Linked DNA regions of Homo sapiens. The protein of the gene in region 1 interacts with the protein of each later gene in a pairwise test. Each region holds a gene or a part of one and is shown on either strand. Other genes may lie near its edges.

Region 1 (10,844 bases):
AAACTATAATCAAGAATGGTTTATACTGGGAATGCAGGATATTTAAATTTTAGGAATTTATTAATACATGTCATCAAATTAATACATCAAAGGGAAAATATATTTACAAATCAACAGATGATACTAAAATGAAACAAAATTTAAAAGCATTTCTGGTTTTTAAATACAAATATACTTACATTTTAAACGATTTTTAAAATACTCTGTTATCTACTATATGTCTGTCTACTTAGGTTCCTTATGTGAGTAGACAAAGAACAATACATAATGAATAGAAAGAATAGAAAGAGAAACAATCAGAAATAGATCACAAAATTGGAAAGGCAAATGGGCAAATAAACACAGTAAAGTTGGTACATTTCCCCTATCAAATAGATAAAAAGTAAAACCAAAATTCTCATAAAGTCCTCATAAATTAGTAATTACTGTTAAAAGGAAGGCATAAAATTAATAGATCATGAAAATATCTATTATTCATTTGCGTTTAGGCTTCTGGGACATGGGAATTTGTTGTGGGAAGTCAGGGACCCCGAACAGAGGGCCACAACAGGAATTCTATGCACTGTTGAAAATAAATGTAATGGTAATAGAAATTAGTATAAACAAAATTCAGAAGTGTTATCTGCTGATATATTTCAAGAGTCTTAAAATCGTACGCATTATTTAGCTTGGCAATTATACATCAAGAAAAATGTCCTGAGGAAATGGTGTTAATTTTCTGCAATGATTTATTTACAGTGATGTTTATAATTCATGAGTAAAATTTAAAAGTAAATAAAAGTTACTTTAAAAAAGGCTATCAGATGCTTCTAGCTGCTTATTCAAACAATTGCCCCTCTTCTTCCTTACTATAAAAACACTGATTTCATTCTAGGTGGCATGAAGACTAGCCTCCAGAACGGATTCTTGATTGGTCTTAATCACACAATCCCATTCTCATTGGCCAGATACTTATTTCCCAGTCTCTATTCCAGCTAAAGATAGCTACATCACCCAGTTCTGGACCATAAGATATAAGGAAAAATCTGTTGGACAGCTTCTGGGAAAAGACTTCTTCCCTACAAAAGGCAAGCTATTTTGACCTTGCCCCTGATTCCTGACTTTGACTATTGTATGGAGATATGATGCTTTGAGTTTTGCAATCATGAGGCCACAATGAGAACAAAACAGCAAGATGTCCAATATGAAGGATGAAAAGAGGCTGAGTCCTTGATAACATTGCTGATCTGCCCAACAAGCAAAAAGGTTGCCTGTCTCCAGACTTCATTACATAAATAAATATACTTATGGTTCATGTCATGGTTAAATTTTATGTTACTTTCAACTTACTACATCCTAATTGATTCTGAGGTGAAATAATTTGCCCAGAGCAAAGATGGGACTCATGCCCATGTGTATCTGGCTCTAAAGCTTATATGTATTACACATATATAAGCTTTAATATCTATTTTAATGTCCAGCATGACCTTACCTCTGGCGATCTTTCCTTGGTACTGGGATCCTTTATCAACCATGTGGGTACCCCACTGTGGGACATAATGCCATGTGTAAAAACTTAGAATTAGTGCTTGTATCTCTTGATATCCCTGCGCCTTATTCTCTTCATTTTTTAAAATACAAAGGTAGGAATAAAGTGGGCTAGATAATTATTATGTTGTTTTCCAGCCACAGATTCCTATAACTTTCCAACCCAAAACCCTCCAAAGAGCTCCTAATGCACTTAGAGAAAGATGAAAATTTCTCATAGACCTCAAGCTGCTATCTGGTCTGGTCTATACTTCTCTCTCTGACCTCTTTGTGTACTACCCTCCCTCTCATTCACCATACACCCATTGCACTACCTTCCTCCTTTTCCTTCAAAATGCCTAGTTCATTTTCACCTTGGGACTCTGCACTAGTATCCTCTCCCCAGAGGCTGTCTCCTTAGGGAGACCTTTCCTTGTTTCATAATCTGAAGTAGCCACCCAGTCACCCTAATTTGATTCTTCTCATATCTTCATATCCAGATTCTTCATTTATCTCTGTATGTGTCTCAATTATTATTTTTTCACTAATAATAGAAGGTAAGGTCCATGAAGGCAAATATTTTTGTTTGTTCTGCCATATCCATGGTGTCTACAACCATGCCTGCCACTCTGCAAGTGTTCAATAAGCAACTGCTGAATAAACAAAAATTGCATAAAATAGAGTGTGAATATGCAGAAACCATCTGCTAGCTGCTTGCTTCTGGCCTCTGTAGCCCCAGCTGCAGCCAAAATTTAATACCACCCCCAAGTTCAGGGACCTACAAGGGACCTGAGGAAAGAACAATTAAGCAGATCCAGGCTTGAAACAAGTAAGTTACATAAAGTCTCTGCCTTGCTGGTCATTTTATTCTGATCCTTATCTTTAATTGGGATTTTAGACCCTCCGTGGTTCCCTATCCCTATATTCTCCATTGCACAGCTTCCTCAGTAGCGCAGACCCTCTAGAACAGAGGTCTTCTTGGCTCTTCTCTCTTTCTCATTCCTAAGACCTGATATCTGGCTCTTGAACACCATGTGGTTGGGCCTTGCTTTAGATGACAGATTACCCTAATGCTGAACAGTCCTCATGGGTCTCTGCATTACACATCTATTCTTGAAATACTCTGTTATCTCATGGAAACTTCCCTTGACCTTGATCCTGCTAGGCTGACTTCATGCTGGAATCATGACTGCTATTGCATACTCTGTGGATCCCAGGTTTTACCCGCTGAACTGGATCAGTCATAAGTAGGGCTGACTCCCCTAATCTTGGCCTCTTTCAGTTGCCGGGCTGGTTCCTAAGATGCAACAGAAATAAGTGTACTGAATAGGATAACTTACCTTGGATAGCTCCTGTCCAGGACCACACCGTTGGCAGGTGACACACCGTCCCCATTGGTCCCAGTACTCATTTTCTTGGCAATCCATGGTGGGAAGGCTGTGGGTAGAGAACACAAGAACTAGCAAGCTAGTGGGAAGGGACTATAAGTAGTGGCTTCCATGCCACTTGGCTTCTGGGTCCCCTTAATCTATTCTCTAGATCTGAGATAGTAGGGACGAGGAAGCCAACACAAAAGAGTTAATGCTTATGTAGCTCTGACCATGTGCCATGAGTTCTTGTAAATGCTTTGCATGTAGTAACTCATTCCATTCTCAAGACAATCATATTAAGAATTATTGTTAGCAACATTTTACAGATGAAGAAACTGAGGCAAAGAGACCAAGCAATTTGCTCAAATTCACAGTCAGTGGCTATACCAGGAGCTGAATTTGTAAAGAGAGTAATAAGACAAGGAGTTGGCTTCTGCCCAGGGGGTAAAGAATAATCACAATCCCTCATGTGTGAACAGATCATAACAATTTAGAAAGTACTTTCACATCTATTATTATTTGATCTACACAACATCCATGTGAGGTAAGCATTATAGAGATTGTCATCTTTATTTTATAACTGAAAAAGCTGAAACATTGTTTCTCTTTGCCAACAGTGGCCTCAGTACCTCTGAGGACCAATACCTGCCATAGCTTCTGTCTTAGGCAGAATGGGAGGGGAGAATAACCCAGAATGTAGACATATTTTGGTGCACAAAGGTGCACAGATAGGGAAACATTACTCAGATAATAGTTCTTGGAATACAGATGCATATAGCAGTAGAGCTAGCATTGAAGTGGGATGGCTGTTCACCAAGCCTGGCTCTTACCCTTTCAATCTACAATCTGGGATGGATCACTTTATCTTTTCTGGCCTCGGTTACTTAATCTAAGAAAAAGGGATAGAATGTTCTTCACCTATTGTATATAGCTCTTGGGAGGGTTAAAGGAGCTAAGGTCCATCAAACCATTCTAAAGAGCTATACAAAATAAGACAGAGTTAAGTATGCAGAAAGGTTGTCTTCTACAAAGAGGAATTTTAATGAAGGGGCTAAAGTAATTCATAAATGGGGCTTATCCTACTCAAAGAGAAAGGTAGCATGAGGTTCTTTACTTACTCATGACTTCATACTAGGGTGAATTTCAAGTGGTTTCTAAAAGTGCCAAAGTCCTAAATGTGTACTCTTAGTCAGAAGAGACGAGAGTGTACATGTGTACCTTGAGAGGCCACCACTCCTCCACTCAAAGTTCCCCAAAAGCGACAGGTTAAGTCATTCTAAATGGCATTCCATAAGTGCACCTTTTTTTCATCATCAACTGGGCCATTCTTTCCCATTCCTTCATTCAAAGGAAAGTGGGCTACAAGATCCATGCTTGCATAAGATAAACATACTGTCTTCTGTGCTGATTTGATTGCTGGCCCATGGTGTTGGCCTCAGTAGGCATGCTTCCCTCCCCTTGCCATGCACTCTTCTCCTTGAGAACAGAAAACTTCAGTATTCTCATAGCCTTCATGACCAGGAAGTTAAGCACCACAGTAACAGGGCCAGGAAACTGCTCTGGACAACTTTCTCATATCCCTTTTTGCCCACAAAACAGAAAAACATTGGCAGGAACCAAGAAGTAGCCCTCTTTTTGAGCTAAGTTCCCAACATAGGCGTTTAAAATCTCCATGACAACTGCTGCTGGCATTTGAGGGTCTGAGACATCCTATTTCATTTGGTTTCTAGAGCTCCACCCCCCTAATAAACATCATGTGTCCTAAACCCCAACATGTCTCTCTAACCATGGCTTTGAAACCTCTGTCTAGGCAAGGCAGGCTTGGTGCCAAATTGAGCAGAGGGACTTTCTCTCCCCTCTTTTTTCCCTCCCTCCCTCCCTTCCTTCCTTCCTTCTTTCCTTCCTTCCTTTCCTCCTTTCTTTCTCTCTCTCTCTCCTTCCTTCCTTCCTTGATGGAGTTTTGCTCTTGTTGCAGTGCAATGGTACAGTCTTGGCTCACTGCAACCTCTGCCTCCTGGGTTCAAGTGATTTTCCTGCCTCAGCCTCCCGAGTAGCTGGGATTACAGGAGCATGCCACCATGCCCAGCAAATTTTTGTATTTTTAGTATAGACAGGGTTTCATCATATTGGTCAGGCTGGTCTCGAACTCCTGACCTCAGGTGATCCACCCGCCTCGGCCTCCCAAAGTGCTGGGATTAAAGGCGTGAGGCACCTTGCCCAGCCTTCCCTCTTTTTTTCTCATACTATTTATTCAAAGCATACAAATTAAATTATCTTTCATTCGACGCTTAACAAATTGACTTTATTAAAGAGAACAAAATTATAGATTCTGGACTCTTTTGAAGAGGTCAGGGCGTATGTGTAAAACTACCTAATAAGGGTTAAATGTCATTACCTAGGGAGAAAGTCAGACCTTATATGAATTTTTCCCTGTAATCAACAGTTTCCTGTAGCATATGTAACCGCCTTTTAAAAGAAAAAATAAGAAAGAATAATTATGTTTTCAGAAAATTATAGTTACTCTGAGGTATTCCATACTGCAGCTAGACACTCTTCCAAAGTATCACAAAGGATGTGGCTGAATCCTCTAAACTTCTGGCTAAGTTGGCAATATATACAGACCTATAAAGTTCCCAAGAGTAGAGACCACTGCATGCCCAGTGCCTAGCCCTGCACCTGGCACAGAGTGTGTACCTCAACAGTGCTTACTATTTGTTAGCTTATCAACATGCTACATTCCCTGGACTATGGTTAACTATGCATATGAATCTAGCAACATAGATCATTTCTCTTTAAGATAATGACTTTCCAAACAATAGTAGTAACCTCACATCCATCAAAAAAAGAGCAAAGCTCTTAGTTAGGGACATGTAGACTTGAGTTTTAATTTTAATTCTGCATCCTCAAACAAATAGTTTTACCTTTGTCAGCATCAGTTTTTTCATCTGCAAAATGGATGTTTAAATAATATACTGCACAGTAATTTAGAAAATTAAATGCAATAATACATATTAAGGGACCAAGTATAGGGCTTGATACATATGAGACGTTTGGTAATTAGCAGGTTCCCTTTCTTCTTTCCTCTTCAGAAGAGTGAGGTTTATAGTAAAAGGAGTGCACATTTGTCATTTTTGGGATGTGTGGGGAAGAAAAAGGAAAGGCACCCAAGCTTCTTCATTGACCATTTCAGCTGGAGCATGAAGGCCATGTTTAAGATGGATGCCACTATAGCAGTTTCCTCCTCATTAATCGCAACCACCAGTGACCTGATGCTTAAGGAAAAGATTCTCCAAGATACCCTCAGTGCCTAAGCCACCTTGGCTAAAAGAAACATTGTTCTAAGTGTTTGCTGGATTTTTTTCATCAAGGCATTTCTGTATAGGATTAACTTGGTCAACAAACGTTTGGAAACTTTTCCGAGACAATTGCCTTTGAAATGGAAGTGAAAAAGAAATAAAATCAGATTTGCAAATAAGTGAGGATGTTATTATGGACTTTATGAAATAGCACATGATTTTCCACAGAACAGTCCCTCTCACCTCCACAACCTAAGGTTATGGCTGCTCAAGAACATTTTTTTCACCCCAACTCTGACATGGGGTTGTGTTCTCTTTACATTACTGAGGGTTGGGGAGAGGAAGGGAAGTGGCAGATGCCTCTTGTCTCAATCCCATGGAGTATAACACATGATGAGGTTCTGATTCTGCTAAAGCGCATCACCCACTCAGTTGTACTGTTTGTCAGCTACACCCTGAAATACTTCCTCCAACTTCCCAACTTGCCCAGAGAATATCTGATCTGTGTAACTCAGAAGTTACACAGATGAGGTAATGTGGAAGTGCTCTAAAAATTCATGTGGGTAACATGCTGGGATTTTTTGTCTGTTTCTGATTGCAGTACAACATATACATAGTAAGGAGCATAAAGATTAAATAAATTAATAAATTTTTACTGTGTACATGCCCATGTAAACACCACCCAAATAAATACACAGAACTTTTCTATTACCCCAGCAGGCTCCCTCACGCCCCTTCCCAGTCAATATCGACTCCTCCCCAGATAATTACAGCACTGGCTTCTATCACTACAATTAGTTATACCTGTCCTTGAAATTCACATAAATTTGAATCATACAAGATGCGCTCTTCTGTTTCTGGTTTCTCTTGATAACTATAATGTCTGTGATAGTTATCCATTATGTTTTGTGTAGCAACATTTGTTAATTACTATTGTTGTGTAGTATCCTATTGTATGGATATACCACAATTTATATATTTTTCTTGGCAAACATTGGACTGCTTTTAATTTGAGGCCATTATAAATTGAGTTGCTATACTATGGTCAATGGATTTTTTAAAGAATGCCAAGAAAATTCAATGAGAAAAAAAATCTTTTCAAAGAAGGGTGTTGGGGAAACTGGATATCCACATGCAAAAGAATCAAATCGGACCCCTACCTCATATCATATACAAAATTAACTCACAATAGACTAAATCCCCAAATGTAAGAGTTAAAACTATAAAACTCTTATAAAAGTTTTCTTACAAGAAAACATAATAATTCTGTAATTAATGTTTTTCTTATAAGAAAATATAGGTGTAAATTTTTGTGACACTGGATTAGGAAGTAGTTGCTTAGATATAACAACAAAAGCACAAGCAACAAGAGAGAAAAACAGAACAATGACATGTCAACAAAATTTAAAAATTAAAAATGTTTGTGCTTCAAAGGACACCATCAAGAAAGTGAAAAGACAATCCACATAATAGGACACAAAAATTTTCATATCACATATCTGATAAGAGACTTGTATCTAAATATATAGAAAACTCTTGCAACTCAAAAAAAGATAGATAATTTAAAAATGAGTAGAGAATTTGAATAGATATCACTCTAAGACTTACAAATGGCCCATAAACACATGAAAAGATGGTCGGTGTTATCAGCAACAAAGGGAATGAAAATGAAAACCACAATAAAACAGCACTTTATATCCACTACCAAAAAAAAAAAAAAAAAAAAAAAATAGCCGGCCAGGCACGGTGGCTCACGCCTGTAATCCCAGCACTTTGGGAGGCCGAGGCAGGTGGATCACCTGAGGTCAAGAGTTCAAGACTAGCCTGGCCAATATGGTGAAACCCTGAATCTACTAAAAATACAAAAATTAGCCGGGGATGGTGGCAGGCACCTGTAATCCCAGCTACTTGGGAGGCTGAGGCAGGAGAATTGCTTGAACCCGGGAGGCAGAGGTTGCAGTGAGCCGAGATCGTGCCATTGCACTCCAGCCTGGGGGAGAAGGATGTGGAGAAACTGGAACCCTTGTGTATTGCTGGCGAGAATACAAAATGATGCAGCCCCTTTGGAAATTAATTTTGCAGTTCCTCAAAATGTTAAACATCATGTTACAACATGACCCAGCAATTTCACTCCTAAGTGTAAATACCCAAAAGAATTGAAAACATGTGTTCATACAAAAACCTGTAAACAAATGTTCCTAGCAGCATTATTTATAATAGCCAAAAAGTGGGGAAAATCCACATGTTCATCAACTGATAAATGGTAAACAAAATGTGGTTTATCCATACAATGAAAATTATTCAGTCAGAGAAAAGAATGATGTGCTTAACATGTGCAATAACATGAATGAACGTTGAAAACATTATGCTAAATAAAAGAAGCTAGACACAAAAGGACAAATGTTGTATGATTCTATTTACATGAAATGTCCAGAATAGGCAATCAATCATAAACTAGCTTTAGTGGATATCAGGGCCTGGGGAGAAAGGGAAATGGGAAGTGACTGCTGAATAGGTATGTTTCTTTCTAGGGTCATGAAAATGCCCTGGAATTAGACAGTGGTGACGGTCGTGTGACTTTGTGAATATGCTAAAACTAGTGAATTATACACTTTAAAAAGGTAAATCTTATAGTATGTGAATTATATCTCATTTTAAAAGATGGTTCTTTAGCTTTATTTAATACTTTGAATTTATTATTCCAATAGGATATTGCTTAAGTTAGCCCCCCAAAAAATGTTAAAGCTGCTATGAATATTTTTACACAGGCCTCCAAATATAATTTGATTCATCCAACTTCTCACCCAAACTTATCCAAGTATGTGTTGTATATACCTTGATTGTGTTTACAAGGGCCAACAAGTGGCAATATGACTAGAATTATTCCCTTATTTTGCCTGTCTGTCATGTGGCTGCTCTTCCCACCCATCTCCCTGTCCTGATTCCTCAAAAAATAATGTAGACGATTAAGAATGCAAGCAGACAGGGAAGAGGAGAAACAATACAGCTGACATCAATAGTAATCCCCAAATTAGCTCATCATGCCCTGAATAATTGATGTTGGCCAAGTTTCTGCTGGATGTGAGGTACCCAGGCTGCTGGGGGTGCAGCTGCTCCTTGCTGCAGCTTGTGGCTGCTGCTCTTCTCAACTTGCACACATGCCTGTGGGGTGAAACATGCTCTCTCTATGTAGTATGGGTAGGCAGGAAAGAAGGACAAGTCTAAATTAAGAACTCAGTACTTCAGGATATTTGCTTTGCCTGGACAGTGCAGGAGGTGTGGGATTAAAAACGATGAAGAAGACAGCAGATGGTCTCCATGCCTTGCCCATTCCTCTACTGCGAGCCCATCTATCCACCCACATGCACAAGACAGAATCAAAGAAGTTGCTCAACGTAGCCTTGAGAACACTGCTTTCTTGAAAATCAAGCTTCTAAACTGTACAGTGCCATCATTTCCAGATGCCTGGCCTGTAATTCAAATGTTGCTTTACCTTTTGGTGTTGGCACTCAGCCTTTCCCTTTTCTGAACTGACCCAAGGCCACTTCTATCCAAGGTTTATCTTGTTTATAACCTCCTTCCAAACTATCAAACATCATATCTTCCTTCTGCCCCACTATTTGTAAAGTTTGCATTTCCTGTTTTAGCTCAGCATAGTGAATGGTCCTAGTCCCAGCTCTGCCATCAGGAGAATATCCCTTCCCAATGCTGGAATCAAGTTCTCCATTCATACCACGAGGGAGTTGGTTTGGCTAATCTCTTAGACCAGTGGTTCTCAGTCTTGGTTGCACCTTGGGAGTGCCAAAAAATAGTGACACCTGGGTCCCTCCCCTAAGATTCTGTTGTAGTTAGTCAAAAATGTGGCATGAGCACGCTACATTTTACAGTTCACCAAGTGATTCTCATGTGCAGTCAATGTTGAAAATCACAGTTTTAAGGGCTCTTTTCTTTTAGTTCTGACCTTGTCTGTTTCACCTGAAAATAAAATGCAGTCAGAAAAAAAGGTTTTTCTGTATCTCTCCCCCATATTCAGAGAGAATCTGTTGAGGGAGAAACCCAAGGTCTATCCATTTTTTTCTAGGGAGAATAGAAAATAAAGATAAAGGGGATAAAACATGTTAGATCATGTCATTTCCAGCCTCAAAAGCCATTGATGGCTCCCTCTTTCACTCATAATATCACATAAGTCCTACACAGTTTTGGATATAACTTAAAAAATGAATGGGTATGTAAAAACATAAAATATACACAGTGATGTATGGCATATAATAAAGAGCTCATATTTTAAAAAATTAAGTTCTTATAATGGCCAATAGAGACCTTAGATGATACGCCTACCTCAATTTCCCCCATTATTTATTGACCTTAAGTTCTACTACTCTTTTCCTTATTGTCTTCACTCCACCCATGCTGGCCTCCTTGTTGAACTTCAAACTAACCAGAAATGCCTTCATCTTAAGGCCTTCACATCTGCTGTTCCCTCAAGCAGGAATGTTCTTCCCCAGATACCTGCATGGCTACTTCCCTCATCTTCTTCAGTTCTTTGTTCATATACAGTCTTCTTAGTCAGGCTTCCCTGACCACTCTCTCAAATTTTCACCTTCTTTCCAGAATTCCTATCCCCGTTTCCAGTTTTATTCTTTTCCATAGCACATATGACCTTATGACATAT
Region 2 (10,844 bases), on another chromosome or scaffold:
CTGGCATGGTGGCTCATGCCTGTAATCCCAGCACTTTGGGAGGCCAAGGTAGGAGGATTGCTTGAGCTTAGGAGTTTGAGACTAGTCTGGGCAACATGATGAAACCCTGTCTCTACCAAAAGTACAAAAATTGGCCCATGTGGTGGCACACATTTGTAGTCCTAGCCACTTGAAAGGCTGAGGCAGGAGGATCGCTTGAGCCTATAGTTGGGGCTTGTGAGTTTGTTTTTTTTTTTTTTTTTTTTTGCAGGGGGCAGGGGGAACCTGTTTTTTAATCCATTGAGTCACTCTATGTCTTTTGATTGGAGGTCCAAATCCATTTACATTCAAAGTTTTATTTCTATACTTTTATTATATTTTATTTATTTACAAGTAATATACTGTTTATTATTGCTTTGTAAAATGTTTAATAATGATTAAGGCCTAATCCCTATTGCTCTCTTTTCAGAATGTTCCTAACTATCCTAACTACTCATGTCTATTATTTTTTCATTTCAACTTTAGAATTATCTTTTTAAAAAATCTTATCACAATTTATTGTGATCATCTTAAAAAGTTTTTTAAGTATAGAGAGAATTGGCATTTTTATGATGTTAAGTCTTTCTATCCAAGAATATAATATGCACTGCCATTGGTTTGGAAATTTCTTTTTTCTTTTCAGTGTATTTAGGTTCTTATAGATTTTGCATATCTTCTGTCAAGTTTATTCTGGGGTATTTTCTTTTTTGTCATTGTAAATGAGGTATTTAACAAGTTTTTTTGGATGTGTTTTTCTATATATAAATGCAGTCAATTTTTAAATATCAATTTATTCTCATCTAATTCAACAGAATTTTTGTTATTCTGAATATTTAAATTTTTTTAGTTTTTCACGTATATAAATTATCATTTGCACATAAAGATAATTTTAACTTTTCCTTTCTACATTTTCTACTTTTTCCTTCTATAATTGTGTTAGTACTTCAGAAAAATGTTAGTAATTGTTGTGGTTGTAGATATACTTGTCTTATCCACACTTTAATGGGACACTTCTATTTGTTTTCCCAGTAAGCATAATGTTGGTTTTTTGTTGTTGTTGCTACTGTTGGAATGCTGTTGTTGGGATTAATTTAAAGAAATTAATATTGTCAAATACAAAGTCTTAAAAATTCAAATATAGATGTTTTATTCTATAATGCATTTTCAGAATTGGTGGAGATTAGACATACTTGTATGAATTGTCTCCTTATAAATATTAAATTATTTTAATTAGTACATTTCTTAATCCTAAACCACTCTGGCATTCCCAGGCTAAATCTCAATTTGTCAGGGTATATTTTTAAATGTTCTGCTGGTGCTCCTTACTAATATGTTGTTTGTTTGTTACACCGATATTTGGAAGTGAGATTCTTCTGTAGACTTCTTTCTTTTCTAATGCTTGTCCAATATTGAAACAATAGTTAATTTGGAATCTTAATTTATCTTTAAAGAGTATTGCAATAGAATGTTCTTTAGATATTTCATTCATTCTTGGGGAGCTTTTAATAATATGTTTCTCAGCTTCATTCCCAAAGACTTAGTAGGTCTTTAAGAATAAAAATGGTATACTTGGTTATTGAGCCTAGAACAGTGTCTGGTACATAGCAGTGGACATTCAAGGAATACTTGACTGATTAATTATAAATTTGGATTTTTAAAAAAGCTACTCAAATTGCTCTAATATTCAAACAGGCAGGCCTTAGAACTGCTGCCCTAAACCAGTTTTCTGTCTAAGCTTGTATACTGCCTAATAAATAATACTGCTTTGTTTATACAACATACTCAAAAGCTTGATTGAGTAATGAAGACATTAATACAGAGGTATTTAGAGCTTTTGTTTATAAAATGTATTCTAATAGCAACTATTAGTCCCTTTGGCATACAATAGCAGAGCAAATACTTGTGGCATCCTTTTGAAAACTAAAATGCTTTTTTTTGATTCATCAATGAGGTATCTATATGATCTGTTAAAATTAACGGAGAGTGGAGGATACAAAATCAACATGCAAAACCAGTAGCATTTCTATACAACAATAACAAACTAGCTGAAAAAAAGAAACAAGAAAGCAATGCTATTTACAATAACCACAAAAAGGCCAGGCGTGGTGGCTAACGCCTGTAATCCCAGCACTTTGGGAGGTTGAGGTGGACGTATCACCTGAGATCAAGAGTTCGAGACCAGCCTGGCCAACATGGTGAAACCCTGTTTCTACTAATAATAAAAAATTAGCTGGGCATGGTGGCATGTGCCTATAATCCCAGCTACTCAGGAGGCTGAGGCAGGTGAATCACTGGAACCTGGGAGGCAGAGGTTGCAGCGAGCTGAGATCGCGCCACTGTACTCCAGCCTGGTGACAGAGCAAGACTCCATCTCAAAAAAACAACAAGCAAACAAAAACCACACACACACACCTAGGAATATATTAACCAAGGAGGTGAAAGATCCCTACAAGAAAAACTATAAAACATTGATGAAAGAAATTGAAGAGAACACCAAAAAATGGAAAGACATCCCATGCCATGGATTGGAAGAATGAATTTTGCTAAAATGACCATACCACCAAAGGCAATCTACAGATTCAATGCAATCTCTATCAAAATACCAATGATATTTTTCACAGAAACAGAAAGAAAAAAATCTTCAAATTTGTATAGAACCACAACAGACTCCAAATAGTTCAAAGCAATACTGAGTGAAAAGAACAAAACTGCAGGCATCATACTACTTGACTTCAAAATATACTGCAAAGCTATAGTAAACAAAACAGCATGGTATTTGTATAAAAACAGAAACCTAGACCAATGGAATAGAATAGAGAACCCAGAAATAAATCCACGTATTTAAAGTCAGCTGATTTTTAACAAAGGTGGCAAGAACATGCATTGGGGAAAGGACACCCTCTTCAATAAATGGTGCTGGAAAACCTGGATATCCATATGTAGAAGAATGAAACTAGACTCCTAACTCTTACCATATGCAGAAATCAATTCAAAATGGACTAAAGACTTGAATGTAAGACCCCAAACTATAACACTCCTAGAAGAAAATATAAGGGAAGCCCTTCGGACATTGTTCCCTGCAAAAAAATGTATGGGTAAGATTTCAAAAGCACAGGCAACAAAAACAAAAATAGACAAATGGGACTATGTCACCTGAGAAGCATCTGAACAGCAAAGGAAACAAAAGCATAAGGGGACAAACTGTAGAATAGGAGAAATTATTTGCAAACTATTCATTCGACATGGGCCTATATCTAGAATATACAAGGAACTCAAACAACTCAACAACAAAAAACCCCAAATGATTTGATTTTAAAATGGGCAAAAGATCTGAATAGACATTTCTCAAAAGAAGACACACAAATGGCCAAGGATATGAAGAAATTCTCAACATCTCTAATCATCGGGGAAAGGCAGATCAAAACCACAATGAGATATTATCCCACCACAGTTAGAACTGATATTATCAAAAAGACAAAAAATAACAAATGCTGGTGAGGATGCAGAGAAGAGGGAATTCTTATACACTGTTGGTAGGAATGTAAATTAGTACAGCCATTATGCAAACATATAGAGGATTCTCAGAAAACTAAAAATATAACTACCATATGATCCAGCTTTCCTACTACTGAGTATTTATTTAAAAAATCAGTATATCAAAGAGATATTTGCATCTCCATATTTATGGAATCACTATTCACAATAGCCAAGATATAGAATCAACCTAAATGTCCATCAATGGATGGATGGATAAAGAGAACATGTTATATATTCACAGTGGACTACTACCCAGACATAAAAATAATGAAATGCTCTCATTCACAGCAGCATGAATGAGCCTGGAGGATGTGTTAAGTGAAATAAGTCAGATATAGAAAGATAAATACCACAAATTCTGACTCATATAGAGTAGCTTAAAAAAAAGTTGTACTAATAGAAGTAGAGAGTAGAACTCTGGTTATTAGAAGCTGGGGAGGGTTCAGAGCTGGAAGGATAAGGAGAGGTTGATTAATAGATGCAAAAATATAGCTAGATAGGAGGAATAAGTTTGAGTAGTATTCTACAGCACTATAGGGTACATACAGTTAACAATAGTTTATTGTATATATTTAAAAAGCTAGTAGAGAGGATTTTGAGTGTTCCCACCAGAAAGAAATGATATGTTTCAGGTGATGCATATGCTAATTACACTGATTTGATCACTACACATTGTGTACATGTATCAGCATATCACTCTATATTCCATAAATATGTACAATTATTATGAGTCTACTACAAATAAAAGGAAAAAAATGAGCTGAGAAGCATGTTACCTTTTTTGAGCATAAAAGAGACCTTCTTCATAAGTTTGTACCCAAGTGATGTCATCTCCCCATCCTGAAATAGAAGAGAGAAATCAATGCAGTAACCCAGAACTAGAGAAGAGCTCGGAAATGGGTATCTAATAATCAGATATCTACCTACAGATATTTAACTAAGCCATCAAGCTGTTGGCTGACATATGGTGCAGAGGACACACAATTTTCACAAGATATGGAGGTGATTTCCCTTTAGATTGCAGTACTGAGGTTTTGCTACTGCATTTCAAACCTCGAGGCCCATGGCCTTGAACCCAGTAAGTACTCAATACATGTTGTTATGATTAGAGCTGATTGAAAGGACATCTTTGGATAATGTAAAAGCTGTGGCTTTAGGAACGCTTGGAAAGTAACAGTTCATCTTTGCATACTTTGTAATATTATTAGGAATCCTTTCGGCTGTACTCTACAATGCCCTCCTATTTTGGGTCCCAAGAGATGTTGACCTCTTCTAAGTCAGTATACGTTGTGAAATAAGGGAATTCCAAGTTTTGCTTTGAATTCTGACATGGAAAAAATTCTTGTGTGGGAATTTCATGGCCAAGAGACATAATAAAACGCATGTGTTTTGGAAACACCCAAAAGAATGGAGAGAAAAAACAGAAAGCAATGAATATAGAGAGAACCCATTAGCCTTAAAGAAATGGTATGAATAGTTGGGAATGTGTATAAGCAATTAAAGATAAAATCATCAAGTAGAAGAATGTGCAGAACCTCCAAAAACATTACTGAGTATTTTCAGGAAGTGTCTCAGTCTACGAATGAGAGAGATTGAATTAATGTGAAAATTAGCAATATTTGGAAGTCAGTTTGGGCCCAGGTTTTCTTGTACATTTCAAATGTTGTCAGACCACAGTTTCTGGCTTTAATATCATGGTAAATATGATAGTAATTTGATAAATATGATTCCATGATTTTTGCTTGTTTTTCATGTTTGTTTTCTGGCGACAGCTTTATTGAAATAAAATTCATACGCCAATACAACTCACCTATTGAAAACGTATACTTTTGGCCAGGCATGGTGGCTCATGACTGTAATCCTAGCACTTTGTGAGACCAAGGTGGGTGGATCATTTGAGGTCAGGAGTTCAAGACTAGCCTGGTCAATACAGTGTAATCTGTCTCTACTAAAAATGCAAAAATTAGCTGGGTGTGGTGGCATGTGCCTGTAGTCCCAGCTACTCGGGAGGCTGAGGCAGGAGAATCGCTTGAACCTGGGGGTGGATGTTGCAGTGAGCCAAGATTGCGCCACTGCTCTCCAGCCTGGGTAACAGAGCGAGACTCCATCTCAAAAAAAAAAAAAAAAAGAAAAAAAGAAAATGTGTGCTTTTTTCAGTATATCCACGAAGTTGTGCAACCATCATCACATCAATTTTAGAACATTTTCATCTCCTCAAAAAGAAACCCTATACCATTTAGCTATCACCTGCTCCCCATTTTCTTCAAATGCCACAGCCCTAAGAAACCCCTAATCTACTTTCTGTCTCTATAGATTTGCTTATGCTGGACATTTCATATAAATGGAATCATACAATATGTAGGCTTTTGTGACTAGATTTTTTCACTCAGCATAACCTTTTTAAGGTTCATCCTTATAGTGCCATGTATTATTATTTAATTCATTTTTTATGGTCAAATATTATTCCATTGTATGAATATACCATATTTTATTTATCTGTTCATCAGTTAATGATATTTGGGTTGTTTCCACTTTTTGTCTTTTATGAATAATGATGCTATGAACATACATATACAAGTTTTTCAGTGGTATATATTTTCATTTATCTTGGGTATATACCTAGGAGTGGAACTGCTGATCAAATGGTCACTCTGTATTTAGCTTTTTGAGGAGCTGCCGGGTTATTTTCTAAAGTAGATGCATCATTTTATATACTCACCAGCAACATTTTTGTTTTTTGTTTTTTTTTGCCTGATTTAAAATCTTAACATTGAAAAACATCTCTTGTTAGTTTAATGCCACATCTTAACAGGAACTCTTGCTCTCTGTAATAATCCTGAAAGATTCTCTTTCCAACTTTGGTTGAACACATGCAATATCTATACATCACATTTTGCATTAAGTAAAAGTTATTCTAAAACAGCAAGTGAGACGAGGCCTCTGCTGAATTTTCCCTCTTCTGTTGCAAATATCATTCAATGATGGAGCATTAGCAGTGGGGAAAATTTCTATTCTCTGCTCCTGCTCAATTTAGTTCCACAAACAGTAAAGGAACATCTGCTGCATAACTTACTCCACAAAGCAGTGGGAATACAAACATAGAGCAATATAATCCCTATTCTCAACAAATTGTCCATAGCTCTGTAGAAAAGCCATATTGCATTATAATGATTTTTTATTTACTCTGTTATAATCACAATAGGTCAAAGCTGTTACACAGTTTAAATGCACTTCATGGCTTCTGCTCATTACTCTAATTCTAGCCCTATCTCTATCTCTGGCTATATTTTCTTGTCTTTTGAGATTTTATTCATTTATCTAACATATATTTATTAAATATTTACTATCCGCCAATCACTGGACTAGGTACTCAGCAATTCTGATTCAAAGGAAATTGGATTTTTTTTGGATCATTCTATGTGTGTGTATTTTTTTCTCCCTGAACCTTCTTCTACCTTTTTCTAATTAATCTTCCTTTTCTCCTTACTGCCTTCTCTACTTAACTAGTGCTGCCCTGTGCTCTAAGGGGCTCCATATGCCACTCTTTATACTGTATCCAGACTTCTCCCACTCACCCCTACCTTTAATCTTCATTCATTCTGAGCCTCATTCTCTCCATTATCTCCCATGTAGCAATAGATGGTAAAAGACTTTGCCAAATATAAACCAATTCTCAATAATGGTGTTCTCAGCTAATATCAGTCATCTTCTGTGTTAAATTAGTTTCTTATCAATTGAAATAATAGAACCTTTAAGTTGTTTAAAATAGGGCATACAAATGTAATATATTTTTTCAAAACATTCAACAAGAGTTTTAAATAAATATTTAGAAGTGAGCACACAGAATGTTGATGCCTTGACGTATAGTTATCACAGTGCTGCTTAATGCAGACATGGAAAATCTTTAAGGGCAATAACTAGTTTAGTCTTTGTCACTTTAGGGCTACTGAGCTCATTGTTTTACAACAGTTATGCTTATACAGAGAGATAGAGTTATGTTTAGGAAAATATTTCAACTTTTTCATTCCTTTCTTTTGCAAAAATATGTTGACTTTCTGTATATATAGATTGTGTGTTTGTTAAACTGAAGTAGAGTTAATTAGCTTAGGTAAACATTGATGAGCACTTGGCTGGCACTCAATACATCTGTTAAGAAATGAATGTACTTGGGAAGCAAGTCAGTGTTTTAGAATTTGAAATTATATAATATATATTTATAATTATAGCATATATTTATATATAATTTATTATAATATAACACAAATGTATACTATGATATATATTATATATAATATATAGTATATATAATATATAATTTGTATGTTATAATTATATATATTTTATATATATATCAGAGGTAGGAACAGAATTATTTGTTCCCACTTGGTTATTCAAAACTAGCAGTATTACTCCAAGGCACTTGACTACTATTTGCAGTGGTAATATGAATGGAGCAAACAAATGGTCAAGTACTTTGTGGTAATACTGCTGATTTTGAATAGCTATATGGGGACAAATAATTCTGTTCCTACTTCTGTTACTTAGAGATATAGAAACTAACTTTGAGAATATTTTCTTGGCCGGGCGCGGTGGCTCACGCCTGTAATCCCAGCACTTTGGGAGGCCGAGGCGGGCGGATCACAAGGTCAGGAGATCGAGACCATCCTGGCTAACACGGTGAAACCCCGTCTCTACTAAAACTACAAAAAATTAGCCGGGCATGGTGGCGGGCGCCTGTAGTCCCAGCTACTTGGGAGGCTGAGGCAGGAGAATGGCGTGAACCCGGGAGGCAGAGCTTGCAGTGAGCCAAGATCGTGCCACTACACTCCAGCCTGGGTGACAGAGCAAGACTCCGTCTCAAAAAAAAAAAAAAAGAGAGAATTTTTTTTAATAAAATGTTTCTTTACAGATGAATATATATTTGTTTCTTGGGCCAAGTAAAACAGTAAGTACAAAAAGAAATGTTTCTAAACATGTAGCCACCGGCAATCCTTGATTATGTCTAAAACCACTGTCTTCCAGAGTCAATATAGCAAAGACTTAGTTACCCCGAATTCTCAGAGTTTGGGGTATAGTATAATTTTCTGGGAAGGCTTATATAAAATTATTCCAATTTTTTTTTTTTTGGAGGACTGGGAAATAGAGGACTGGGAATTTGAGCAAATTTTGAGGAATCTTAAATTGCTATTAGGACACCAATATGACGCAGCAATCAATCATTATTTTCTAGGACTCTGGTTACCAAAGTTATAGACAGCGAGCCAATTCTCCATTATTTTGGCAAAAGATAATGCAAATTTATGTTATTGTTTGCTAGTTGATTTGATTCACTGCCTAAAATAAACTGATTCCTTCTGTTTTAAAAAATCCATTTTGAAGTCACACACAACAAAAATCATTCAGTTAGTTGAATTTGCTTTATAATTAGACTATGAGTGAAGACACCAGATATTTTAAAAAGCAATCCAAATGACTGAGTTTAGAAAATAAAATGAGATTACAGCACCTCTTGAGAGTGTCTGAGGAGGCCTCTTTTCCTTTTTTATTGCAATGGCAAGGTTGGAAGAAACTGTGACGAGTAAGAGGCAGAGACCCAAAGCTGAGTGTAGCATCATGTCTTCTAGAGACTCTCTCAGAAGAAGCTAGATGACAGAAAGGAATTCTCAGAATCCAGTGAATTACTTCAAGCTATTATTAGAAGATATTTGCTAAGAGTTGGACCAATACTGTGATGACAGACTGTTCAGCTTTTTTGGTTTGACATGGTATAACCAACCACATAGAACTTTCATTCACATTTTATTTTTAAAATACTTAATCAACTCAGTACATGCTCAGTTGGTGAGAAGTCATGTTCTGAGCCTCCTGGGCATGGTGCTGTATAATTAAAAAAGAGCTGGATCAGGGCACACGAAGCCTGCTTCTGAACCGCCCTGTAGTGTTCACACCAACAAGACGAAACTCAAATAAGATCATGTTGTTTGATGTCTTGTAAACTATGAAGTGACTTTTAGCATGCAGAAATATTCTTTGCCTTTTGATTCTCCTTCATCTAATAGGTCAAAATATTTTAACTCTATACTAAGATAAGATTATACATGAATAAATATTGCTTAAAATAGAAATCAGAGGAAAAATAGAATATGGAGGATTCTTGTCCTTCAGTTCCTTTATAGTTTCTTACCTTTCTCATCCTTCCAACAATTACTCAGACTTTTGCCCTTCAGTTTATGATACAGCTCTTTATAAAAATCAAGTACTATCATATTACTATAAATTAGACATATGTATAGAGAAGAATAGACTGTCATGATTACATTCTCTCCTGGTTAGCTAGAATTCAAACTGATTCTTAACTCAATGTGCATCTTTTATACTTTGCACGTTAAGATAAAAACTGAAGTCCAAAGTTGGGCCTGATCTGGTCATAAACCACTTGATAAATATATTACAGGAAGTCTTTAATACTTGTGAGATGTTTAGTTACAGCATTAGCATATAAAACTGATTTGAAAATGGTTGACTCATGCAGTTTTGAAACTTTACCTCAAAATATAAAATAAATATACAGACATCATTCACATTGATTTGAAGTTCCTTTAAGACGTCTTTCCTATTGGCTTACATTATTTAGTATTGAACTCATCACCAAAATAGTAAAATTTCCTTAGCCAAAATGGCTAGTGACTGATTCTTTAGTGATTCTGTTCAAACAAAGATGTTGCTATATTTTATTGTAGTAGGCATTGTGGAAAATGAAAAGATATATAAGACACAATGTTTTGGCATTGGTAAAACATTTGGCAATTTTAATCACCTAGTTATTGTAAAGTAGCAACCGCAGTCGTGGAGGAGAACAACAATTTGGTGGTAAAGAAGTTTACAGATTCTAGATTTCTCCAGACATTTCCTCATTCCTCCCATTATACTGTTTTCCCCTTCCCAGTGGTGTATCTATTGCAGCCCCTCTATGGACTGAAAATAGTTACCACTCCAGGTTAACCTTACTTTATTTCCCTCCCTAATCCCCAGTTGTCCCTCCCTCCTTCCCTTCCCCTTCCTTCCTTCCCCTTCCTTCTTTCCCCTTCCTTCCTTCCTTCCTTCTTTCCTTCCTTCCTTCCTTCCTCTTTCTCTCTCTCTTTCTTTCTTTTCTTTCTCTCTCCTTTCTTTCTTTTTTTTTTTTTTTTGCTCTTGTCACCCAGGCTGGAGTGCAGTGGGGCCATCTCCACTCACTGCAACCTCCGCCTCCCAGGTTCAAGCGATTCTCCTGCCTCAGCTTCCCAAGTACG

The links.
Region 2: the proteins of EDA2R (region 1) and AGR3 interact in binary tests that used the Homo sapiens proteins (3 or more experiments, as listed by UniProt).

What each region holds. Positions count from the first base shown.
Region 1 is NC_000023.11:66,613,088-66,623,931, forward strand, and holds part of EDA2R (tumor necrosis factor receptor superfamily member 27), read right to left. Parts: intron 2,944-10,844; 5' UTR 2,934-2,943; coding exon 2,847-2,933; intron 1,527-2,846; coding exon of another isoform or gene 1,472-1,526; intron 1-1,471. UniProt on the Homo sapiens protein: Receptor for EDA isoform A2, but not for EDA isoform A1. Mediates the activation of the NF-kappa-B and JNK pathways. Activation seems to be mediated by binding to TRAF3 and TRAF6.
Region 2 is NC_000007.14:16,869,449-16,880,292, forward strand, and holds part of AGR3 (anterior gradient protein 3 precursor), read right to left. Parts: intron 9,198-10,844; 5' UTR 9,171-9,197; coding exon 9,062-9,170; intron 4,396-9,061; coding exon 4,332-4,395; intron 1-4,331. UniProt on the Homo sapiens protein: Required for calcium-mediated regulation of ciliary beat frequency and mucociliary clearance in the airway. Might be involved in the regulation of intracellular calcium in tracheal epithelial cells.